Regions from separate parts of the Homo sapiens genome. Here region 1 is linked to region 2. Evidence: fine-mapped expression QTL. A gene starts in region 2. The other region holds a variant in brackets. All regions are shown on one strand. Distances are between the middles of the regions. Region 1 overlaps ANKRD6 (ankyrin repeat domain 6). Region 2 holds the start of ANKRD6 (ankyrin repeat domain 6).

Region 1 (11,870 bases), 140 kb after region 2:
ATTTTCATGTTTACTTATGTGCAGTTTTCACATTCCATGCCGGCCTCCAGAGAGGTCTTGAGCTACTTGTAGGTCCCCATGGAGGTGAACAGGGGTTTGCCCATAGATGGTGATTGGATTGTTTGGAACTGAAGGTGAAGGGGGCCTTAACTCAGAGCTTGTGTGATCTACCCATAGCACTTTCCAGGGCCCAGGCAATCACAAATGGGAGAGAGTGCAGACTCTGTAGTTAGGGCACCTGCTCACAGATTTTAACTCTGCTTTGTTTGCTAATTGTGCAAGTTGCTTAACTTCTTTGAGCCTCAGTTTCTTATCTGTAAAAGAGGGATAGTAATGTCAGCTTTTCAGAATTGTTATAAGAACAATAACTTATTTAATGCACTTAGGGCATAGTCTGCAAGTTTTTTCTATACATAGACTTAATTATTTGCTATTTTATAAACAGCTTTATTAAGATATAATTTACGTTCATTAAATTCACCTATTTTAATTGTACAATTCAATAATTTCTAGCGTATTTATACCACCACTGCTATGCACTGAATTGTTTCTCCCCCAAATTCGTTTTTTTCAACCCTAATCCCTAATGGTATTTAGAGATATAGGGCCTTTAGGAAGTAATTAGGTTTTTAAATGGGGTCATGAGAGTGGAGCCCTTGTGATGAAATTAGTTTCTATGTAAGAAGAGGCACCAGGGTCTGCTGTCTCTCCTTCTCCCTGCTATGTGAGGACACAGTGAGAAGGTGGTCATCAGCAAGCTAGGAAAAGGGCCCCCACTGGAACCTGACCACGCGGGTACCCTGAACTCACGCATCCCGGCCTCCAGAACTGAGGAACAAATCTCTTGTTCTGGCAACCTGAGAAGACTAATATAAGCACATTCAAATATTAGAACATTTCTATTGTCACAATAGAAAATTTTATATATATATAATTTTTTTTTTTTTTTTTAGACAGTGTGTCCGTCTGTTGCCCAGGCAGGAGAGCTCACTGCAACCTCCACCTCCCAGGTTCAAGTGATCCTTGTGCCTCAGCCTCCCATGTAGCTGGGACTACAGGCACATACCAACATGCCTGCCTAATTTTTGTATTTTGAGTAGAGATAGGGTTTCACCGTGTTGGGCCAGGCTGGTCTCAAACTCCTGACCTCAGGTGACCCACCCACCTTGGCCTCCCAAAGTGCTGGGATTACAGGCATGAGCCACCGCGCCTGGCTCCTAGTAAAAATCTTCGTACCCAGTAGCTGTCACTTCCCATTCCCACCCCCAGCTCCTGGCAACCATGAATCTACTTTTTGTCTCTATAAACTTACCTTTTCTAGGCATTTTATGTAAATAGAATCATATGGTATGTGGTCTTTTGTGTCTGACTTCTCTCACTTAGCATAAAGTTTTCAAGGTTCATCTCTGTTGTAGCATGTATCAGTACTTCATTCCTTTTCATGACTGAGTAATAATCCATTGTATACATATATTCTGTTTATTTCTTTATCAGTTGATGGACATTTGTGGTTGATTCCAGTTTGGGGCTATTATGAATAATGCTTTTGTGAAAATTTATATACAAGTTTTTGTGTTGGAAATATGTTTTCAGTTCTCTAGAGTATATTCCTAGGAGTGGAATTGCTGGGTCGTATGGCAAATCTGTTTAACACGTTAAGAAACTGCCAAGCTATTTTCCAGAATACCTGTACCATTTTACATTCTACCAGCAATGTATGAAGGTTTCAGCTTCTCTACAATCTCACCAGTGCTTGCCTGTCTTTTTTTATACATCATTTGCTTTTTCATAGTTATCTTTAGCAAAGATTCCCATTGGAATTTTAAAACTATTAGTTCAAATACTGCTAAAGGTTTTTAATAAAAACAGTGATCCCTTAGCCCAGTCCCATTTACACTCCAAAGAAACAACTTTCAGCCTTCTAGATGTTTCTTTTCTGGTATTTGTCTCCATATTTCCAATGAATATGTATGTTCTACCACCTGATTCAACAGTTTAGTTTTTTTAGTGAAGTCAAGTTTAATATTTTATTTATGTTATACTCGTGTGTGTGTATGTGTGTATATGTGTGTGTGTGTGTGTGTGTGTGTATAATTTATTTAAGATATGCTCCCCTCTGTCACCCAGGCTGGAATGCAGTGGCATGAACATAGCTCACTGTAGCCTCCACCTCCTAGGTTCAAGCAATCCTCCCACCTCAGCTCCCTGTGTAGCTGGGACTACAGGCATGCACACTGTTAATTGTTAAGACAGGGTCTCCCTACGTTGCCCAGGCTGGTCTCGAACTCCTGGTCTCAAGTGATCTTCCCTCCTCAGCCTCCCAAAGTATTGGAATTACAGGCATGAGCCACCATGCCTGGCCTTTCTTTTATATTTTTAAAATTTATTTATTGTGGTAAAATATACATAGTAAATGTACTACTTCAACCATTTTTAAATGTATAGTTTAGTGGCATTAAATACATTCACATTATTGTGCAACCATCACCACCATCCATCTTCAGAAATTTTTCGTCTTCCCCAGCTGAAGCTCTATACCCATTAAACACTAATTTCTCATTTCCTCCTCCCAGACCCTGGCACCCACCATTCTACTTCCTGTCTCTGAATTTGACTGTTAGCCGCACCTCAAATAAGTGGAATCATACCATATTGTCCTTTTGTGACTAGCTTATTGCACTTAGCGTGTTTTCAAGATTCACTCATGTAGCATGTACCAGAATTTCATTCTTTGTTAAGGTTGAATAATAATCCATTTTATGTATATGCCACATCTGGTTTATCCCTTCATCCACTGATGGACACTTGGGTTGCTACCGCCTTTTGCCTGTTGTGAATATTGCTGTATGAACATGGGTATACATGGGTGTTTGAGCCCTTGCTTTCATATCTTTTGGTTATATACTCAGAAGTGAAATATGGTAGTTCTATTTTTAAAGTTTTGGGTAACTTCCATACTGTTTTCCATGGCTGTTGCACCATTTTACAGTGCTACCAACAGTGCACAAGGGTTCCCACTTTTCCACATCCTTGACAATACTTGCCTTCTGTTTTTGTTTGTTTGTTTTTTTGAGTCGGAGTCTCGCTCTGTCGCCCAGGCTGGGGTGCAGTGGTGCTATCTTGGCTCACTGCAAGCTCCACCTCCCGGGTTCACGCCATTCTCCTGCCTCAGCCTCCTGAGTAGCTGGGACTACAGGTGCCCGCCATGATGCCTGGCTAATTTTTTTTTTATTTTTAGTAGAGATAAGGTTTCACCGTGTTAGCCAGGGGTGGTCTCGATCTCCTGACCTCGTGATCCGCTGGCCTTGGCCTCCCAAAGTGCTACTATTTTTACTGACCTTCCTAATGGGTGTGAGGTGATATCTTGCTGTGGTTTTGATTTGCATGTCTCTGATTATTAGTGATATTAAATGTCTTTTTATATGCTTGTTTGCCATTTGTGTATCATCTTTGGAGAAATGGCTATTCAAGTCCTTTGCCTATTGTTTAATCTGGTTATTTGATTTTTTTTGGTGTTGAGTTGTAAGAGTTCTTTATATATTCTAGATATTAATCCTTTATCATATATTTGATTTGCAACATTTTTTCTCATTCTGTGGTTGCCTTTAGGAGTACTTTTTTAGAGCCGTTTTAGATTCACAGCAAAATTGAGAGGAAGGTCCAGAGATTTCCCGTATTGCTCCCGCCCCTAAACATGTTTAACCTATCCCATTATCAACATCCGCCACCAGAGTGATACATTTGTTACAACTGGTGAGCCTATACTGACGCATCATTATCACCCAAAGTCCATAGTTTACATTACGGCTTATTCTTGTACATTCTATGGATTTGGAAAAATGTATAATGACATACATCCACCAGTATAGTATCATATAGATTATTTTTACTGCTCTAAAGATCCTCTGTGCTTCACCTATTTATCCCCTTCCCTCCTCCCACCCCAATCCCTGGCAACCACTGGATCTTCTTACTGTCTCCATAGTTTTACCTTTTTCAGAATGTCATGTTGTTGGAATCATACAATATGTAGCCTTTTTATATTGGCTTCTTTCACTTAGTTATATGCGTTTAAGGTTCTTCCATGTCTTTTCATGGCTTGATAGTTCATTTCCTTTTAGGACTGAAAAATCTTCCGTTGTATGGATATACTACAGTTTTGGAAGCATTCACCTACTGAAGGACATCTTGGTTGCTTCCCAATTTTGGTAATTATGAGTAAAGCTGCTATAAACATTTATGTGCAGTTTTTTGTGTGGACATACACTTTCAGCTTTTTTCACTAGATACCAAGGAGTGCAGTTGCTGGATCACATGGTAAGAATGTTTTGTTTTGTAAGAAACTGCCAAACTGCTGGATTCCCATCAGCAATGAATGAGATTTGCTGTTGCTCCACATTCTCACCAGCATTTGGTGTTTCAATCTTACGGATTTTGACCATTCTAGTAGCTTTACAGTGGTATCTCGTTGTTTGTAGCTTGTCTTTTTACTCTGCTGATTGTGTTCTTTGATGCACAAACATTTTCAAGCTTGATGTCCCATTTGTCTATTTTTGCTTTTATTACCTGTGCTAGCATTGTCATATCCAAGAAATCATTGCCAGATCCAATGTCATGAAGCTTTTCCCCTTGTAGAAGCTTTATAGATTTGGATCTTATATTTAGGTTTTTATTCCATTTCGAGTTAATTTTTTATATAGTGTAAGGTAAGGGTCCATCTTTACTTTTTTGCATGTGGGTATCTGGCTTTCCCAGGACCATTTGTTGAGGAGACTATCCTTTTCCCATTGAGCGGTCTTGGTATCTTTGCTGAAGATCATTTGACCATATACATGAAGGTTTATTTCTATGCTTTCTATTATATTTCACAGGTTTTATATATTTTTATTCTAATACCAACTGTTTTGATTACTGTAGCTTTTAATGTGTTTTGAAGTCAGAAAGTGTGAGCTCTTCACAGTTTGTTTGTTTGTTTGTTTTGACACAGAGTCTTGCTTTGTCTCCCAGGCTGGAGTGCAGTGGTGTGAACACGGCTCACTGCAGCCTTAACCTCCTGGGCTCAAGCAATCCTCCTGCCTCAGCCTCCTGAGTAGCTGGGACTACAGGCATGTGTGCCACCATGCCTAGCTGATAATAATGAGCAACTTCCTGGGCGATCCTACTGCCTCAGCCTCCCAAATACCACAATTTTAAAATCAGACTTATAATTATTGTGACTATGTAAATGCTGCTCACTGGTTAGCTGAGAATGATTACTTTTTTAAAAAATATATATCTTATTATTTTTCCTGGAGCTGATAGTTACCCTAATTTTTTCACTTGTTTAATTTGATTTAAATTTATTGGTAAATGTTTCATCTACTATCTGATAACTCTGTAAAACCGTTCTTAGTGCAATTCTCCATGAGTAAACCTATTACATATTTATCAGCCCGAGTCTTTTCCTGGGGATATCCCCTCTGGAGTCATTTATCCTTCTTTCTGATTGATCTGGGTTGCTCTCTAGTTCTGCACAGTCATCTTGAGAAGTCCTTTCACCTCTCCCCTGTATTAGATCCCTGTTTGCTGGAACCCATGTCACTCTAACTTTGATACTGCACATTCTTTGATTTCTTCCTAAGAAAGGGAATATGTACATAAATTTTTTGAGAGTCTGCATGTCTGAAACTCCTTATTCTACCCTCTTGCTTACGGGACAATTTGGTATAGAAACCTAGGCAGAGAATTATTTTGCCTAAGAACTTCAAACGCAGTGCCTCATCTTTGAACTTATAGTGTTGCTGTTGGGAAAGTCAGCTTATAGTGTTCCTTGCAACTGTCTTCTGAAAGGCCTTTTGCATCCACTCTGCCCCTTGAAGGACCTGCCCATTCAGGACTCAGCTCAGGAGCCACCACCAACATGAAGTCCACCCAGTGAATGGTACCCTGGATGGAATTTGCTCTCCTCCCAATTGATGTAACCTTGTTCTCTATGCATTCTGTGTCCTTCATACTGCTCTGTGGGTGCTCAGAACTCCCCACCACATCATCACTGTGACCTGGGTCATAGTGTCTCTCTTACATTTATCTGTGTTTGACAGAGGAGAAAGGCACTGAATTTGGAATCCAAAGACCTTGGTGTAGGCACCTGTTCTGCTGCTTATTAAAGGCTTATTAATGTAGGCCAGGGTTGTTCAGCCTTAGCAACATCACTGACATTTTGGGCCAGATCATCCTGTGCTATTGGGACTTTCCTGTGCATTGTAGGGTATTTAGCAGCATCTGTGGCTTCTTGCCATAGATGTGCTGGTAGTACTTCCTTTCCTTGGATTTTGACAACCAAAAATGTCTCTGGACACTGACAGACATCCCCTGAGGAACAAAATCATCCCCGCCTCAGAACCATGGATTAGGCCAATCATGACAGGAGTCTCTATTTCCTCACAAACCTTAGAGTTTCCATAAGCACTAAATGTGATAGCACATGTTGCCATAGTTATAAAATCTAAGTGGACATAAAATATTGATTATTTTTTAACTCATCCAGTGCCTAGCAAGGTACTCACATCCCATCTGTGCCGAATGAGGGGAATAATGTTATTGACTGTGAATTTCTTACACTTTGATAGCAATTGCAAGGTATTAGGTACTCTTGTAAGAGCTCTACAACAATTAAGTATTTTAAACCTCACCATGGCTATTATCCCCATTTTACAGATGAGGAAACTGAGGCAAGGAATGATCAGGTAACCTGCCCTAAGTTTCCCTTAGAAAGTGTCAAAACTGGGACTCAAACCCTGGCCATGTGGTTCGAGAGTCCTTGCTCCCACAGGAGGCAAGGAGGAAAGTTCCCCTTGGCCCTTGAAGGCTCACTGAAAAATCAGCTGACAAATGGCAGATAAATTGTAGAAGAGGCATAAAAATTTATTTAACATGTACATACAGGAGCCTTCAGAATGAGGACCCAAAAATGCAGGGGAAATTGTCCATTTTTATGCTTAGGTTCAAAAGAGTGTGGATAGCCATGTA[G/A]AAATATGATTGGACAGAAAGGGCACGATCTAATGCTGATTGCATGGGAAACCCAGCAAAGCCTGTCTGTCTACATTCTTCTTGGCCTTTCTGAGCTGAGCATTTCTGCCTTCTAGGTATGAGGCAGGACCCTCTCTGGAATGGAGTGTTAAGACCTACATTCAACTAGGTCAGATAATTTCTTTATGGCTTGCTTTTACGCAGAAAGGGGAGGAGGGGAAGGTTAGAGTAATATTTTTAAGTTTTATGGCTGGCTTTGAGGGTAGCAGATTCTGGTTTCTATGACCTGCCTTGGGGGAAGAGGGATTCTAGTTTCTATGGTTAGCCTCTGGGGAGGAATTGAGGGGCCAGAGATAGGAGGGCAGGAAGAGGTCAGAGAAAAACTTTTGCTTGTGAGGCCTTCCTTTTGGGTTGTTTTTTGAGCCCCAACACTGGTAACCATCATGTTTCCACTATGTGGTTTATAAGTTTAGATTGTGAACTTTCTATGGGCTGCTGCTTGTTAGAGCATATTCCTTGGCACCTGACACATTGTGGATATAATCTGCAAATGTTTTATTGACTGGGAGCTCAATATGCCCAGGTACTTTACTTAAAAAAAAATAAGCGATTTCCCAATAATGGGATTGTACTTGTATAAAACATTTCCGAATTATTTTCATGTATATGTTGCTTGTCCCCAGAGGCTTGTAAGATATATATGGTTTCCCTTGAGAGGAAATGAGGTCACAGAAGGAAAGTGACTTGTTCAAATAGGGCATGCCAGAGCCCAGATGAGAACTGGAATGTCCTGGCTCCTGTGGACATTTTCTCTGCCACAGATAAGGGCATCTCTTCTGTCCTGGGAATTTTACTTCAACTCCTAGTGGGTGGTTCCAGTATGTTGTCCACTAAGTAAGGATGGGGTTGTCATGCACAGAACATGTCTTCAGAGCAAGTGGGGTTGGGAGCTGGAAATTGATGTGGGAACTACATGTAAGAATTTAAAACTCATGTTTTAAGAGAAAGGCTCACTAAGAACTATGATTTTCCATTTGCACAACTTTCTTTCTTTTTTTTTTTTGAGACGGAGTCTCGCTCTGTCACCCAGGCTGGAGTGCAGTGGTGCGATCTCAGCTCACTGCAAGCTCTGCCTTCTGGGTTCACTCCATTCTCCTGCCTCAGCCTCCTGAGTAGCTGGGACTACAGGCGCCTGCCACCACGCCTGGCTAATTTTTGTATTTTTAGTAGAGATGGGGTTTCACCATATTAGCCAGGATGGTCTCAATCTCCTGACCTCATGATCCACCCTCCTCGGCCTCCCAAAGTGCTGGGATTACAGGCGTGAGCCACCACACCTGGCCATTTGCACAACTTTCATATTTCGACCAGTTGTACTTCATCATGTTGACAAACACATTTTCAGCTGGAACAGGTAATCTGATAAAAGCACTGGGTATGCTGAGAAGTCTGAGATATCTCTGGAGCAGATTATTAAAGACAATAACTCAGGCTCATGACCCTTCACTTTTCTGCTACTCCTTTCACCAAAGTCACCTTTTCCTTCCCTCATCTAGACAATATATTTTGAGCTTCAGCTGTGCACTGGTGAACAAGACAGGAAAAAACATCTTGGTCCTTGCTGGAGCTTGCATTCTTGGTGAGACAGGCTAGAATTTGACACTGTTGCCTGCACTCCTATCCCTGAAGCTCCCGTTGGGTCTGTCAGCTCTGCCTCCTGGTTTTCCTCCCCAAGGTGCCTTCTCCATCTCCTTTTGCTTTTCCTGCCTCTAAAATTGGCTTTCCTCAGGCCCTCTGCGCTCATCTGCTCTCCCTCTGGACACCCACTTGGCTTTTCCAGCTCAAGGCTGGTTACCATGTCTCCATCTCCAGCTTCGCCCTGTCTCCTGATCCCCAAGGCCAGCTGCCTTCATGGGCATTTTTTATTTTTTATTTTTTTTTGAGACAAGAGTCTCACTATATTGCCTAGGCTGGTCCTAAACTTCTGGACTCAAGTGATTCTCCTCCCAGGTAACAGGGACTACAGTCATGAGCCACCATGCCCAGCCTTCCTGGGCATCTTTATGTGCAGAATCCACAGGTTCAAATCGAAGTGCCCACACTGGAAGCTGCAGCCCCTCCTGAGGCCTGGTCCTCTTCCCAAGGTCCCTTTTTATCAGTACGAGGGAGCCCCATTTGTGCACACCTCAAGCAGAAGCCCAAAGCCATCGTTTCTTCTTTTGGGTCTTTGACATCCCTCCACTGACGCTTCCTGTCAGTGACCAAGTGAGGCTCATTATGCCTCCTAACTTCTCTCAACTCTGTGTCTTTCTAGTTGCCCCTGCAGGCACTGCTTGAGATGTTTGATACTAAAACAAAAAAATGGGATATATTTTTTCTTTGCAAGAAAGCTCTGGTTTTATAAATGAACATATTCTCTCCAGTTCCCTTGTGCTTTAGTCAAATACCTTCTGATACAGCTAATTTTGTTACCTCAGTACCAACAGGTGTTTTGTCATCTGGATAAATCCTCTACATGCTCCTTAGTGCCAAGCATTGGCCATAACATTAGAGTTGAGAGCCTCTAGGAGTCCCCAGGCAGAGTATCATTTCCTAGAACTGTTAAGAAGCTGGTTAGCCTGGGAAACATAGTGAGACCCTGTCTTTACAGAAAATAAAAAATTAGCTGGGCATGGTGATGCACACCTATAGTCCTAGCTACATAGGAGGCTGAGGTGGGAGGATTGCTTGAGCTCAGGAGGTTGAGGCTGCAGTGAGCCATGATTGTGCCACTGCACTCCAGCCTGGGCATCAGAGGGAGATCCTGTCTCAAAAAACAAAACAACAAAAATGCTGGTCCTTGGAATGTTTTACTGAAGTTTTTATCTTCTCCAAAAGGAAGTAGACAAAGGTTGTTTTATGCAAGTTTGGTTAAGAAGAAAATTCAGTATCATTCATAAAATTCATCTCCATTTGATACCTACCACTCTCCCTGAGTAACGAAATTGGAATTTAGATAATTAAGCACAAACCCCAGGGCCTCAAAGAGCTTGTTCATAGAGGGTGAGCCCCCCAGAGTTCTCTGCAGAGTGGGCAGGCAGAAAACTCAGGAGGTGCCACAGGGCAGGTAGCATGGAGACCATACGGTGTGATCTACTTCAGTTTAAATAGGCAAGTCTACTTCTCTCCACAAATGTATGCTTTCATTTGGTGAGCCAGGAGAACGACATGGGACACATGAGACTGTTAACATTGGCTGCCTAGCAAGGAAGACGATTAGCTTTTTCCCCCTCCCGCCTCCTTTTTTTTTTTTTTTTTTTTTTTTTTGGAAACAGAGTCTCACTCTTTTGCTTAGGCTGTAGTGCAGTGGCCCAGTCTCGGCTCACTGTAACCTCCACCTCCCGGGTTGAAGCGATTCTCCTGCCTCAGCCTCTTGAGTAGCTGGGACTACAGACACGTGCCACCACACCTGGCTAATTTTTGTATTTTTAGTAGAGATGGGGTCTTGTCATGTTACCTAGGCTGATTTCAAACTCCTAGCCTGAAGTGATCTGCCCGCCTTGGCCTCCCAAAGTGCTGGGATCACAGGCATGAGCCACCGCATCCAGCCTGATTTTTTTCATTGTATTGTTTCAGTTATTAAAATAAGCATATATTAATTTTGTACTTTGTCAAAGATAAAGTCAAGTTTAAAAATATGTGTTGAGTGCCTGCACCAGCAGTGGGCCAGGTGCTTGCCATATACTATCTGGTTGAAATCCTTACCACAGCTCTGCCAAGCTAGTGCTCTTATCGCTGAGATACCAATAAGGAAAGGGAGGTGCTAGACAGAAAGTAACTTGCCCATGACCAAAGAAGTAGTAGGTGCTAGCCCTGAGAAGGAGCCAGCTTTATGTGGCCCTGAGGCCCACATGTAGGCACTCCTGACCCTTGTTTCCAGCACCTCCATAGTCCTTGCCCTTCCACCACTATGCTGGCCACCCCTCAGTGCAGACAGAGAAAGAAGCTGTCTGCAGGGTGGCCCAAAGGGAATTTTCTCCTCCCCTGTCCTTGCCTCCTGCACACCATTTCCAGAGTTTTATAGCAAGTTCAGAAATTCCTGATGAAGGCGGTGTAGTGTAGAAGGTACAAGCGTGGATGCAGGAGCCAGGTGCTCTGTTTCAAATGCCAATGATATTTACTAGCTCTATGGTCTTGAGGAAATAACTTTGTGCATCATATCATCACCTCTAAAATGAGGATTAAATAATAGTAGCTACCTCATTAGGTTCTTTAAGCACTACCTGAATCAGTATATGCAAACTACTTAGAACAGTGCTTAGCACATAGTCAGTGTCAAATATAGTAGGCACTGAGGGGATTCTGACAATGCAACAATGCTAAGAGCTGTGGTCCAAGTATCAGGCAGGGAGTCCTGAGTGGAAGACACAAGGCCATTCAGTATCCTACCTGAAAAGTGAGGATAATCTCAGCCTCATGAGATCGCCATCAAGACTAAATGAAGGCCGGGTGCAGTGGCTCATGCCTGTAATCCCAGCACTTTGGGAGGTCAAGGCTGGTGGATCTCTTGAGGCCAGGAGTTCAAGACTAGTGAAATTCCATCTCTACTGAAAATACAAAAATTAGTCGGGTGTGGTGGTGCACGCCTGTAATCCCAGCTACTTGGGAGCCTGAGGCAGGAGAATTGCTTGAACCCAGGAGGCGGAAGCTGCAGTAATCCAAGATAGTGCCACTGCACTCCAGCCTGGGCCACAGAGCAAGACCCTGTCTCAAAAAAAAAAAAAAAAAAAAAAGGCTAAATGAGATGACAAAGTGTCTCAGTGTCCAACATTTAATAAAACTATCAGCTTTTTGGAGTAGAAGTTGAGAAGCTGATTCTAAAA
Region 2 (11,870 bases):
TGGGAGGCCAAGGCGGGTGGATCACTTGAGGTCAGGAGTTCAAGACCAGCCTGGCCAACACGGTGAAACCCTGTCTCTACTAAAAAATAATTTTAAAAAAATTAGCTGGGCGTGGTGGCATGCAACTGTAATCCCAGCTACTCAGGAGGCTGAGGCAGGAGAATCACTTGAACCCAGGAGAAGGAGGTTGCAGTGAGCCAAGATCATGTTACTATGCTCTGGCCTGGGCAACAGAGCGAGGCTCTTTCAAAAAGAAAAAAAAAGAGAAAAGAAAGAGAGAAAGAGAAAGAAAAAAAAAAGAAAACCAAAGATTTCAGGCAGTATGATGCTAGCAGAGGGATAGACAAATGGAACAAAATAGAGGACCGAAAACAAACCTATATGTGTATAAAAATCCATTGTAAGAGAGTTCTGGCATTGCAAATGAAAGGAGAAATGAATTTCAGATAGAATGTGGACTTACACATGAAAGACAAAATTGTAACACTTGAAATAAAATATGGGAGAATATTTTTATATCCTTGGGGTCAGAAAGGACTTCTCAAAACACATGAAACAAGGCAAAAGACACCATCAATTAACAAAAGAGGAAACAGGACTAGCTATTAAACATTAAAGATGCTCAGCCATACTGGTAATTGGGGAAATACAAACTACAACTATTATGAGAGATCATTTAGATGAAAACAAGTGCTGGCAAAGATTGTGGGACATGGATGACTTTCTTTTTTTTTTTTCTGAGACGGAGTCCCGCTCTGTCACCCAGGCTGGAGTGCAGTGGCACGATCTCACTGCAAGCTCCACCTCCTGGGTTCACGCCATTCTCCTGCCTCAGCCTCCCGAGTAGCTGGGACTACAGGCGTCCGCCACCATGCCAGGCTAATTTTTTGTATTTTTAGTAGAGATGGGGTTTCACCGTGTTAGCCAGGATGGTCTCGATCTCCTGACTTCGTGATCCACCCGCCTCGACCTCCCAAAGTGCTGGGATTTACAGGCGTGAGCCACCATGCCCGGCCAGATGACTTTCATATACAGGTGTTAGAAATGAAAATTGGTATGACCACTTTAGAAAACAATTTTAGAAAACAACCAGTTTAGACAGTTTGACATTACCTAGTAAATTTGAACGTGCACTTACCTTAAGACCTGATGATTCCACTTCTAGGTATATATCCTAAAAAACATTCTTACACACATGTATCGGAGAAATATTTAAGAATATTCACAGCAACACTGTTTGCAATAGCAAAAACTGGAGCCAATCCAACATCCAAAAGTAGAATGGGTAATTAAATTGTGTTATGTTTTTACAACAAAATACCTATATAACAGAGAAATCAGATAGGTGAATCTCAGAAACATAATGCTGGGCAAAAGCTGCAAGTTGCATGGGAATAATGCAGAATGATTCTATTTTAAAAAAGCTCAAAAACACGCAAAAACAAACCATGTAGTGTTTAGGGACACATATATTTGTGATAACATAATTATTAACACAAAACTTAGGATGGTGGTTTCCTCTGAAAGAGAAGGATATGATTATAGAGCGGCAGATGGAAGGGTTCTTCCTTGAGTGGAAGCTTTAGCAAAGGCAGTTTCAGTGGAGTGGCAGGGATGGAAGCCAGAATGGTGTGTTGAAGGCTGCGTTGAAGCTAACAACATGAAAGACAGCTAATGCAGTCAGCTCATTAAAGACATGTTGTTGAAAATAGGAGCAGATTATATTATCACAAAGCAGTGAAAATGATCATTTGCAGAGCAAACTTCTTTCTCACAAGGCAGAAGGAGGGTGAGCTAGGGTGAATATAAGAGGCTGGCTGTGATTGAGCTGAACGTAGGGGCAAGAACAGAGCTGCAGCCTGGGAGCCCTTCTCATAAAGAGGGAGATTTAGGAGTCTTCTTCGTTGGTCGCCCAAAGACTGTCTGCCCACTTGGAGATAAGCAAGCAAGATCTCCAAGCAGCTCAGCCACTGCCTGCTTTGGCTCTCATGAGACCTCCTGCCAGGAATCCCCATTAATCAAAGTCTGGGAACAAAAGCAGACCAGTCAGTTCCCAGGAGCGCTCACATGTCTTGCAGGCTGGCTTGGGCTTTCTGTTTCTTTCGGGGTCATTGCTCTGACTACCCACAAATATAACTTAAAATCTCATCTCAATGTGACTTTCTGGTGATGTTTTAAAAGCCTATCAGGGAAACTGAGCATTTGCATCTTTGGAAGTTTATTCGAGGGACTAGCTAGGAAAACTCAATGTGGAAAAGTACAAGAGAGAAATGATCACATTGAAAGGTCATGTGGCTGGGCGCGGTGGCTCACACCTGTAATCCCAGCACTTTGGGAGGCTGAGGCAGGTGGATCACAAGGTCAGCAGTTCGAGATCAGCCTGACCAACATGGTGAAACTCCGTCTCTACTAAAAATACAAAAAAATTAGCTGGGCGTGGTGGCAGGCGCCTGTAATCCCAGCTACTTGGGAGGCTGAGGCAGGAGAATTGCTTGAAACCGGAAGGTGGAGGTTGCAGTGAGCCGAGATTGCACCACTGCACTCTAGCCTGGGCAATAAAAGCAAAACTCCATCTCAAAAAATAAAAAGAAAGGTCATGTGTACAAACTTTGACTTTGAGGGTTATCTAGGAACTCATTAGTAACCTGCCTGGAGAGAAACCTGGAGCTACAAGCCAGCAGAGAAAGGAAATGTGTTCTTCTATCAGCTCCAGGTGTAGAGCAACAGGAATGGGGCACAAATCTGAAGAAGGGCTGGGCGCGGTGGCTCACACCTGTAATCCCAACACTTTGGGAGGCTGAGGCCGGAGGATTACTTGAGCCCAGGAGTTCAAGACCAGCCTTGACCTCCTCTGTGTTAAACATAAAAAAATTAGCTGGGCATGGTGGTGCACACTTGTAATCCCAACTATTCAGGAGGCAGAGGCAGGAGGATTGCTTGAGCCCAGGAGTTCAAGACTGCAGTGGGCTACTGCACTTCAGCCTGGGTGACACAGCAAGGCCCCATCTTAAGGGGGAAAAAAAAGTCTGGAAAAGGCCAAAGGATACTCAGAAGAGAGATTTCACATCCTGTTAGGTAAAACTGCAGCTGTGACTATGGGGTTGGGAAAATTTCAGAAGCAGTAGGAGAAAATCAAGAACTTCCCCTTCCTAGTGTGGAAACAGGCTCTTGGGATCTCTCCTGCCTAATGATCCCTGAAGGAGAGAGGGAAACAAACATCTTAAGGAAAAGGAAGAAATCATCATGTTTCTTTTCTCCTGGAAACCAGGCCTGTTTCAGAGGGAATAAGAAAAGTCGGCTGGGTGCAGTGGCTCATGCCTGTAATCCCAGCACTTTGGGAGGCCGAGGCTGGAGGATCACGAGGTCAGGAGTTCGAGACCAGCCTGACCAATATGGTGAAACCCCATCTCTACTAAAAATACAAAAATTAGCCAGGGATGGTGGCGGGCACCTGTAATCCCAGCTACTCAGGAGGCTGAGGCAGGAGAATCACTTGAACCTGGGAGGCGGAGGTTGCAGTGAGCCTAGATGGTGCCATTGCACTCCAGCCTGGGTGACAGAGTGAGACTTCGTCTCAAAAAAAAATTTTAAGCAAGAAAGAAAAAAAAATCAGATTCGTGATAAGCTTGTCCCAAAACCTCAGGTAAGATTGATAGTCCATTTTAGGGTGCTGCTTGCCTCCTCTTCCATCTCTCCGCCTTTGGAGAGCAGATACCTGTCCATGCTTCTTCAAAGGGTGGAATGAGATCCCATCCATCTTACATGTATTCAACAGTAGCTTATTGAATGCTTCCTGTGTTCAGGGAGCTCTTCTAGGTATTGAAGAAGTGGCTGTGAATGAAAATAGACAAAACCAGACTGAGATAATGGTATGTAAAGTGTGATATGAATATGGGGGTCAGGCTCGCTCAATGCTTTTGCCATTTCCATATGGGATGATTCCAACAAGATACTTATAGTCAAGCTGTTAGAAATAAAGGCTTCCTTTCCCCTCTCCAGCTACCCCAATAAATCTGGGTCATTCATCATTGTTGTTCAGTTTGTACTGAGCAGCCCCAGTTAAGTGAGCTATGGTTATATTGAAATATCCACTTGGCCACGAATTGAGTGAAGGTGGGAGGTTCCTCCTGCTAATTCTCCTCCCCTCCCAATACACTTCCTGGCAACCCCCACGCGGAAAACCTCACCCTACTATAGGCCCCCTTCCTCCCACTCTTCAGAAGGCGGTGGCCCCACCCAGGAGAGGGCTGCAGATCGGGGCCAGCCCCAGGGCCTCCGCGGTGCCACCTCTCTCTCGCGAGGGTCCCTGCCGTGCCCCGGCTCGCCGCTGGGAGGCGCTGCGGCACCGGCGTAGGAGCCGCCGGCAGGGGTGGGGCGGGGCCGGCGGGACGGGGCAGAGGGCCCTGCGGCGGCGGACGCGGCGGGCTCGGCCACAGGTAACCCGCAGGAGCCGAGAGCGCTGCCTGGCGCGCGGGCGGCTGGAGGCACGGCGCTGGGCGGCGCCGAGGCCCTGGGGCCGCCGGAGCCAGCGGGAGCCAGTCCCCGTCTTCGCCCCTCGCCCCCCACCGTGTCGCCGGCCTTGGTCCCTGCGGCGCGGACGTCCGGCGCGGGAGAGAAAGGTACCAGGCGACCTCGCCGGCTCCCTGGGACCCCCGCTTACACCGGGGTGGGCGCCTCAGGTCGGGGAGGACGCTGTCGGGGGAAGGGGGCGCTGCTCCCTCGGCACCCCAGGATCGCCGACTGCCCGCGGAGGAGACCCGGACACCGCGCCTCGCCCCCTGGCCTGCGGCCTCCGAAAACGCCCGGCGCGAGGGGGTCCCCCCGGGGCGCCTCCCTCTTCGCCTGGCATCAGTTGCCTCCCTGGAATATGGAACTTCGGGCGAGGGAGGTGGAGAACTTTCTTCTGGGGCTCGTCCCTCGTTCTCCTGCTCGCTTGCAGTTTGAAGGAAGGGCGGTGGGGGCGGGGGTCCGAGTACCCCGCGGTCTGCGGCGCGTAGGAGGGTAGGTCCCTGGCCTGCGGCCGCCTCCGAATGACCCCGTCCCTCCCCGCCCTGGACGACAGCACTAGGGTGCAGTCGCAGGAGAGGGGCCGATACCCCTCAGGAGCCCCATCGGCGAAGCCTCAGCAAGTGGCATCTCCCGGGGTCCAGAGAGTCGGCGTGCTGTCTGGTTTGGGTCCAGACATCAGCTCACCCAAGCTTATCTTGGGCTTTTAAGTGTGTTGCTTCCGGTAGATCTCGGGGACTGGAGGGGAAGTGCAGCATTATTTGTGACCCAAGAGGGACTTGAATGTCTCAAAGCTGGTCAAGAATGTTTCCCCCGCGAGGTAGCATGAGATGGGTCACGTGGTAGTAAAGAGCCACTTCGGGCCCGTGAGATGGAGTTCTGACTCCACCACTTGTTAGGTGTGTGACTTTGGAAAACCCACTTCTTTAAACCTTAGTTTTTAGAACTCTAAACTGCAGGTATTGTACATAACCTCGTAGTATTGTGTTCATGCAGTGAAGTGATGGGAATGAAATGCTTGGCATTGTACTCTTGTGTGTTAGACACCTTTTGCGAACCTGTTGGATGTTGAATTCATTCATGCTTAGGTTCTGTTAGGCCAGTGTAAGTGGAAAGAACTTGGGCAATGAAGACAAACACACCTGGGTCCAAGGTGGTCCCATCCATGGTATACTGATTGGGGGTTTCTCATCCCCAAAACACCAATAGCAGCCTTGGCGGGGTTTTTGTTGTTGTTGTTTTGAGACAGAGTTTCGCTCTGTTGCCCAGGCTGTAAGCTTTGACCTCCTTAGCTCAACCGATCTTCCCACCTCAGCCTGGGACCACCACACCTGGCTAATTTTGAATTTTTTTATTTTACTAGAGACAGAGTCTCACTGTGTTGCCTAAGCTGGTCTCGAACTCCTCCTGTCTCAGCCTCCCAAAGTGTTGGGATTACAGGTGTGAGCCACTGTACTGGTCTGCAGCCTTGTTCTTGAGTGTAGTAGGTGTGTCTATACCGATACATGTTACACTTTGTCATCTTTAGTATTTGTTTAGCATATGGTAACAAAAAATTTTTTAAAAATTAGGGATACAAATTAAAATTGGGGAGTATTTTCTGCCCTCTAGGTCATACTGGACATGGGGGAAGGGTAGAAGAGGGATGAAGAGGAATTAAAGAGACCAGAAAACAACTAGTCGCAGTGTTGGGAGGTATAAACCAATGGTAATTTTTAAAAATGTGAATTTATTAACTCCTTGTTTTTTCATGGTGGCACCAAAAATTAATCTTAGTCTCCCACTTAAACTCATCAGCCTCCCCAAAGCCTTTCCAGATAAGCATATGCTCCATGTAAAAGCAGACTGCCTGCGATCCAACTCAGCTTAGAGACAAGGCACACTTCCAACTCCCAAGGCCTCCTTCTTGTATAGAGATGCTGGTGCTGCCACTGTGAAATACATCATACACTCAGACAGTATAAACCTTAGAGTGCAATGTAAAGAATAACAATAGATCACACCCAAGTACGAGTCACCCGGCTGAAGAACTAGAACATCGCCAGGCCCCTGGAGCCCCTGAGTACCCCTCTCCATTGCCTTCCACTCACTTCTCGCCTCCCACCCAAGGAACCACTATTCTGGATGTTGTGTTAACTTTTTCCCTTGCTTATATGAAAAACCCTGAGGAAAGGAAGTTTCCCAACAAGCATTTCCACAATAACCTGGAGCATTCTTTATTTTTCTTTTTTTCTCAAGGAGCATTGTTATTGAACTTAAAAGCAGGCTATTGAGGGTAAGATACAAACCACAAAAAAGCCGAAAGTCTCAAAGTCGGGGGATCTTTTAGTCTCTGTCTTCTTCCAAGTTTCTCCTGTCTCCCTGGCACGGATCCCGAAGGTGTGTTCTGTCTGTGTAGGGGAGACCCAGTCTCTTCCAACATAGATTGATGGCTGTGATTTTAAAAGCTTTGCTTGAGTCCCTAAGAAGTGGGAAAACAGTAATTTGGGTGCGTGCGTTTTAGAAGTTTTTTTAAAAATGCAAATTATCCAGAAGGCATTGTGTGGGATTTGAAGGATTAAGCTAAGAGTGACCTTTAAAAATGGTTTTAACAACCCAAATTCCTCTTCCTGGTTGATATGTTTGTGTTATTGTCTTTGTTTTATTTCTTCAAGGTCACATGGCTTTCCTTGGTGAATCTTACACTGTTTTGTTACTTCTTGGTTAAGGCAAAGATTCTGAAACTTGGTTTCATGGAGCCCTTAGTGTCTGAGTTAATTTTTTCACAATTCCCTTAGGCTTCAGTAGTTAGTAATTTTTTCACAATTCCCTTAGGTTTCAGTAGTTAGTAGTTAGGTTCAAACAACTGAGTATTTACTTAGAAGTTGTTTGAAAAAATAATATACATAAACTGAGAGAAAAAATATTTTACATCCTTTAAAGTCATAATTACTAACCGTATGTGTGTGCCTATACTACTTTTCAAACCTTGGGATCGTGTTGGACACTGCCACTCTCATTTCCTGTTTCACATTAATATTTCCGCAGCATTTGGCTTTTATCACAGCAGCCACAGAAAACCCAGCTTTGCAAAGATGTATTGTCTTGGATAGGAATGTAACATGATCTACTGTTGAAACTGCAAACTACCTCCAGTTAATAGGTTCAGCAGTGTCCAGACATGTTTGGTATACTAGTTTCCATTGAAATTTTCAGATTTTCTACATTGCCCATTTTAATTTGCTATAGTTGCAAAACACCCAGTCAGGGGGTCCAAAATAGTAAACTTTGAAAACATTATGCTAGGTGAAATAAGTTAGTCACAGAAGGGACAATATTGTATGATTCTGTTTATATTAGGTACCTAGAGTAGTCATACACATGGAGACAGAAAGTAGAATGGTAGTTACCAGGGGTAGGGGGAGGACAGAATAGGGAATTCATGTACTATTTTTGCAACTTCTATGTAAGACTAATATTATTTCAAAATAAAGTTTTTAAACGTTTTTTAAAAACAAATTCTGTTGATGGTGCCCCACTGCTGGACTGTACCAAGGCACTGAGGTTAGGGACAGCAGCAGAGAAAAGCTTAGGGGTGACATTATCTCTATTTCCCAGCTCTTCCTCATCCCGTCAAGGGGGAAGAGATGGAAGAAATAGCTATGTTCTCTCTCTTTTATAGGGAAGTGTCTGCATTATTTACTGGTGGGTTCCTTTATAAACCTGAGGATCAGCTATTAAATTTGTCACTAAAATAAGAATTTTTAACCTGGGGTTCAGTGGTGGGCTACAAATACTCTAAGATCTCCCAAAATTATGTATAAGTATTTAAGTGAATGCTCTTATGTATGTTTGAGGGGGAAGAAGTTCCATAGCTTTCATCAGATTCTCAAATGGTTTCCTAAGTCAAAAAAGGTTAGTAAGCGCTATAAGGAAATATTTACAGATTCCTACCTACCCCCACCCCATAAAAGGCCCCTTTATTTGGATGTCTTATCCCATTTCAGTTCTCTGACATATCTTTCCCCCACCAGTTACAAGAGGCTTTCTTTCTGCTCAGACCCCAGATAAGCCCGACCAGTTCTTTTTCCTCAGAGCCCCCAGCTATTCATCTGGATCCTGAAAACTCCAGGACCAATTCCTCAAGAGCCAAAGGAAGTCCCAGAATGAACATCTTGGACTTCTGAATAGGGCAGATGTGGAACTGAAGTCTCACAACTGCCACATCTCTCTGTGCCCTCCTTAGGTCTAGAAAAATATGAAGTAAATAATAATATATTAGGTACACAGCTATGGAAAAACTCATGAAGATGGTACTGAATGACTGAAGTCCAGTACATTCTGCTTTGGGGGAGGCAAATTTAATTTTAAGAGTGTCTTCTGGTTTACACTTTATGTTCCAAATGTATTCTAAATATAGCATACAATACGTCCTACCTTGTTTCATATCCAGTGATACAGATGAGCTATAGAATTTACACAGTGTTAGAAAAGATGTTAAATATCAGAATTTACTTAATAAGTAGGTCTCTACTCATTCAGACTGGTTTCATTTTATTTTATTTTATTTTTGAGGCAAGGTCTCGCTGTCACCCAGGCTAGAGTGCAGTGGTGCAATTTCAACTCACTGCAACCTCTGCCTCCTGGGCTCAAAGCCATCCTCTCACCTCAGCCTCCTAAGTAGCTGGGACTACAGGCACATAACACCACGCCCTACTATTTTTGTATTTTTGGTAGAGACAGGGTTTCACCTTGTTGCCCAGGCTCACACTGGTTTTAAACTCAGATGAATGGGGTAGGTAAGTGGCAAAAATGGTAACCTGCAAGCTCTTCTTATACATATGATTCCTCAATAGTTGCATTTATCTTAGAAATACTTCAATAAATCATGATTTGAGTCTTTCACCGATACAGGTATATTCTGTATGCTGTAAGGTAGGCTAACTGCTGTAACAAACATTTCCAAACCTCAGTGGTTTAATCTAGCTCACACAAGTCCTAATCAGTTATTCCTGTTGGGCAGCTCTCCTGGGTAGCTGTCCTTCAGGTGACTCAGGGATCAAGGTTCATTCCTTCTTGTGATGCCACCATCTTCATGTGGTCTCCAGAGTCACTGCAAGGGGGAAAGAGTATGGCAAAAGGAAACCGTGTTGACTGCCTTCACCAGCAAGGGAAACACATCACTTCTGCTTACATTCTATTGGCAGAACCAGTCACATGGCCTCAACTAGATTCAAGGAAGCTAGGAAATACAGTCCCTGGCTGGGCAACTGTTTCTTAGTAAAAATAATTTACTTTGGGAAAGGAATAGAACTCTTTGGTGGATGAGTAGCCATTTTTTGTACAATAAGGTGCTAGTGTTTTAACTGGTCAATTAAGTGTAACTGCCTTTATGTAATTTATTTCTAACTTTTTTTTTTAGACAAAATCTCGCTCTGTTGCCTAGGCTGGAGTGCAATGGTGCGATCTTGGCTCACCACAACCTCCACCACCCAGGTTCAAGTGATTCTCCTGCCTCAGCCTCCTGAGTAGCTAGGATTACAGGCAGCCACCACTGTGCCTGGCTAATTTTTGTATTTTTAGTAGAGTCAGTGTTTTGCCACATTGGCCAGTCTGATTTCGAACTCCTGACCTCAGGTGATCCGCCGGCCTCGGCCTCCTAAAGTGCTGGGATTACAGGTGTGAGCCACTGCACCTGGCCTATTTCTTACTTTCTAAACATATATGTGTATATGTATATATATGTATGTGTTTGTATATATGTATATACACTGTATAAATAAAATGTTATGTCTTCATAGTGGAGGGTGTGGAGAAGACTTCTATACAGGAAACAAATGTATCATAATTGCCATGTGAGCAGATAAAAATGCTATTAAGCCATCTAGGCTCAGACATTTATTAGGGAATGAAGCATATTTAATTTACTCAGAATCATCCAACCATGTAGAGAATTGTACATTTGAGAAAGACGGAGCAGAGAAAGATTAGCAAAGAACAAGAATATGCATGTCTTAATGGCTTCGTTAATGTTATCATAAGAGTTTAAAACTACTTTAGGCTGCTGGCAATAGGCTAGGTATGAAACTTATTCCCCCTTCAAAAAAAAAAGTTTTTGCCATGGAATGTGTTACATAATCACAAAGTATATGTGTCAATTTTACTTATTTGCTCTTAAGGGAAAGTAAAATTGTAAAATTTGTATCTGTTTTTCTTATTTGTTTGAAGTAAATTTGTGCCCAAGAGGGTGCACAGCATCAAATGGTAGACATTAAAGGATTACAAGATCATGTGAAAGATCCCAAGACCCAGTTAGAGTCATGGAGAAACTTCAGTAATGTGCACTAATTCTAGTAATGCTTCAGCGTCATTTATCTGTTACTAGTTGACATTGGGCTGTTCTACCTAAGGAAAAGGCCCAAATAATTAAAATTTACCATCTTTTAAATCCTAATTTTCTTTTTTTTCTTTTTCCGAGACAGGGTCTCATTCTGTCACCCAGGCTGGAGTGCAGTAGTGCCATCTTGGCTTACTGCAAACCCCGCCTCCTGGGTTCAAGCAATTCTTGTGCCTCAGCCTCCCGAGTAGCTGGGATTACAGGTGCACCACCATACTCGGTTAATTTTTGTATTTTTAGTAGAGACGGGGTTTTACCATGTTAGCCAGGCTGCTCTTGAACTCCTGACCTCAAGTGATCTGCCCACCTTGGCCTCCCAAAGTGCTGGGATTACAGGCCTAAGCCACCATGCCTGGCCTTAAATCCTAATTTTAAAATAAAGTTTCCTGTTTCATGGTGCTCATATTGGTGTAGTGAAGGAAAAAATAATTTTTCCTCTACTCTTGTGAGTTCTCAGCTGGGAGCCCTGTAACAAAACATAGGTTAACAAGAGAAAAACAAATGGAAGTTTATTAACATGCATATTTCATATATACATGGGAGAAAATTCAGGGAAAGAGTAATTCTCAAAAAGATTTCTTAGAACTCTGGCTTATATAGCATCTTCAACAAAGAACAGTACACTTTTAGAGAAGTGACAAGACAAAGGAAAAAGACCTTCAGTCTTTAGCGATGGCGAATTGTAGGAAGGCAAATACATGGGGAACTAATGGCAGATAAAGGCTAGTTAGTGCAGTTTGTTATGTAGATGCCTCTGGTGCCTTCTCTAGGCTGTTAAGGACCTAAAGCTGTCTTCTGTGACTAACCTTTATCCTTCCTGGTGGAGAGAGGAGAAGGGACACCTTTGTTAATTTATGTCCTGCTTTTAGCAAATAGGGGAAGGCAAGGAGCTTTTCTTGTATCCACTTCTCAGTTGCCTTCGGCTCAAAATAATCCTTATGCCAAAGTGGCATATTTTGGGGTAGCATATCCTGATACTTTTCATTGG

What was found. PIP is the estimated chance that this variant, and not a neighbour inherited with it, causes the effect.
Region 1: its variant is the best candidate, but not a certain one, in a credible set for the expression of ANKRD6 in whole blood (INTERVAL, PIP 0.84).

Annotation. Positions count from the first base shown.
Region 1 is chr6:89,567,999-89,579,868 of GRCh38, forward strand. All of the region lies in intron 2 of ANKRD6 (ankyrin repeat domain 6), which reads left to right. Among named protein-coding and RNA genes, the nearest start is that of MDN1-AS1, 65 kb to the right of the region's middle. The variant G/A (reference allele first, on the strand shown) is at 7,009.
Region 2 is chr6:89,428,757-89,440,626 of GRCh38, forward strand. It overlaps ANKRD6 (ankyrin repeat domain 6), which reads left to right and starts at 4,396. Exons shown (of 16, transcript NM_001242809.2): 1 at 4,396-4,619. LOC124901360 (a long non-coding RNA gene) reads right to left here. Exons shown (of 2, transcript XR_007059675.1): 1 at 4,661-11,870; 2 at 1,452-3,831. RefSeq lists a silencer at 4,188-4,667.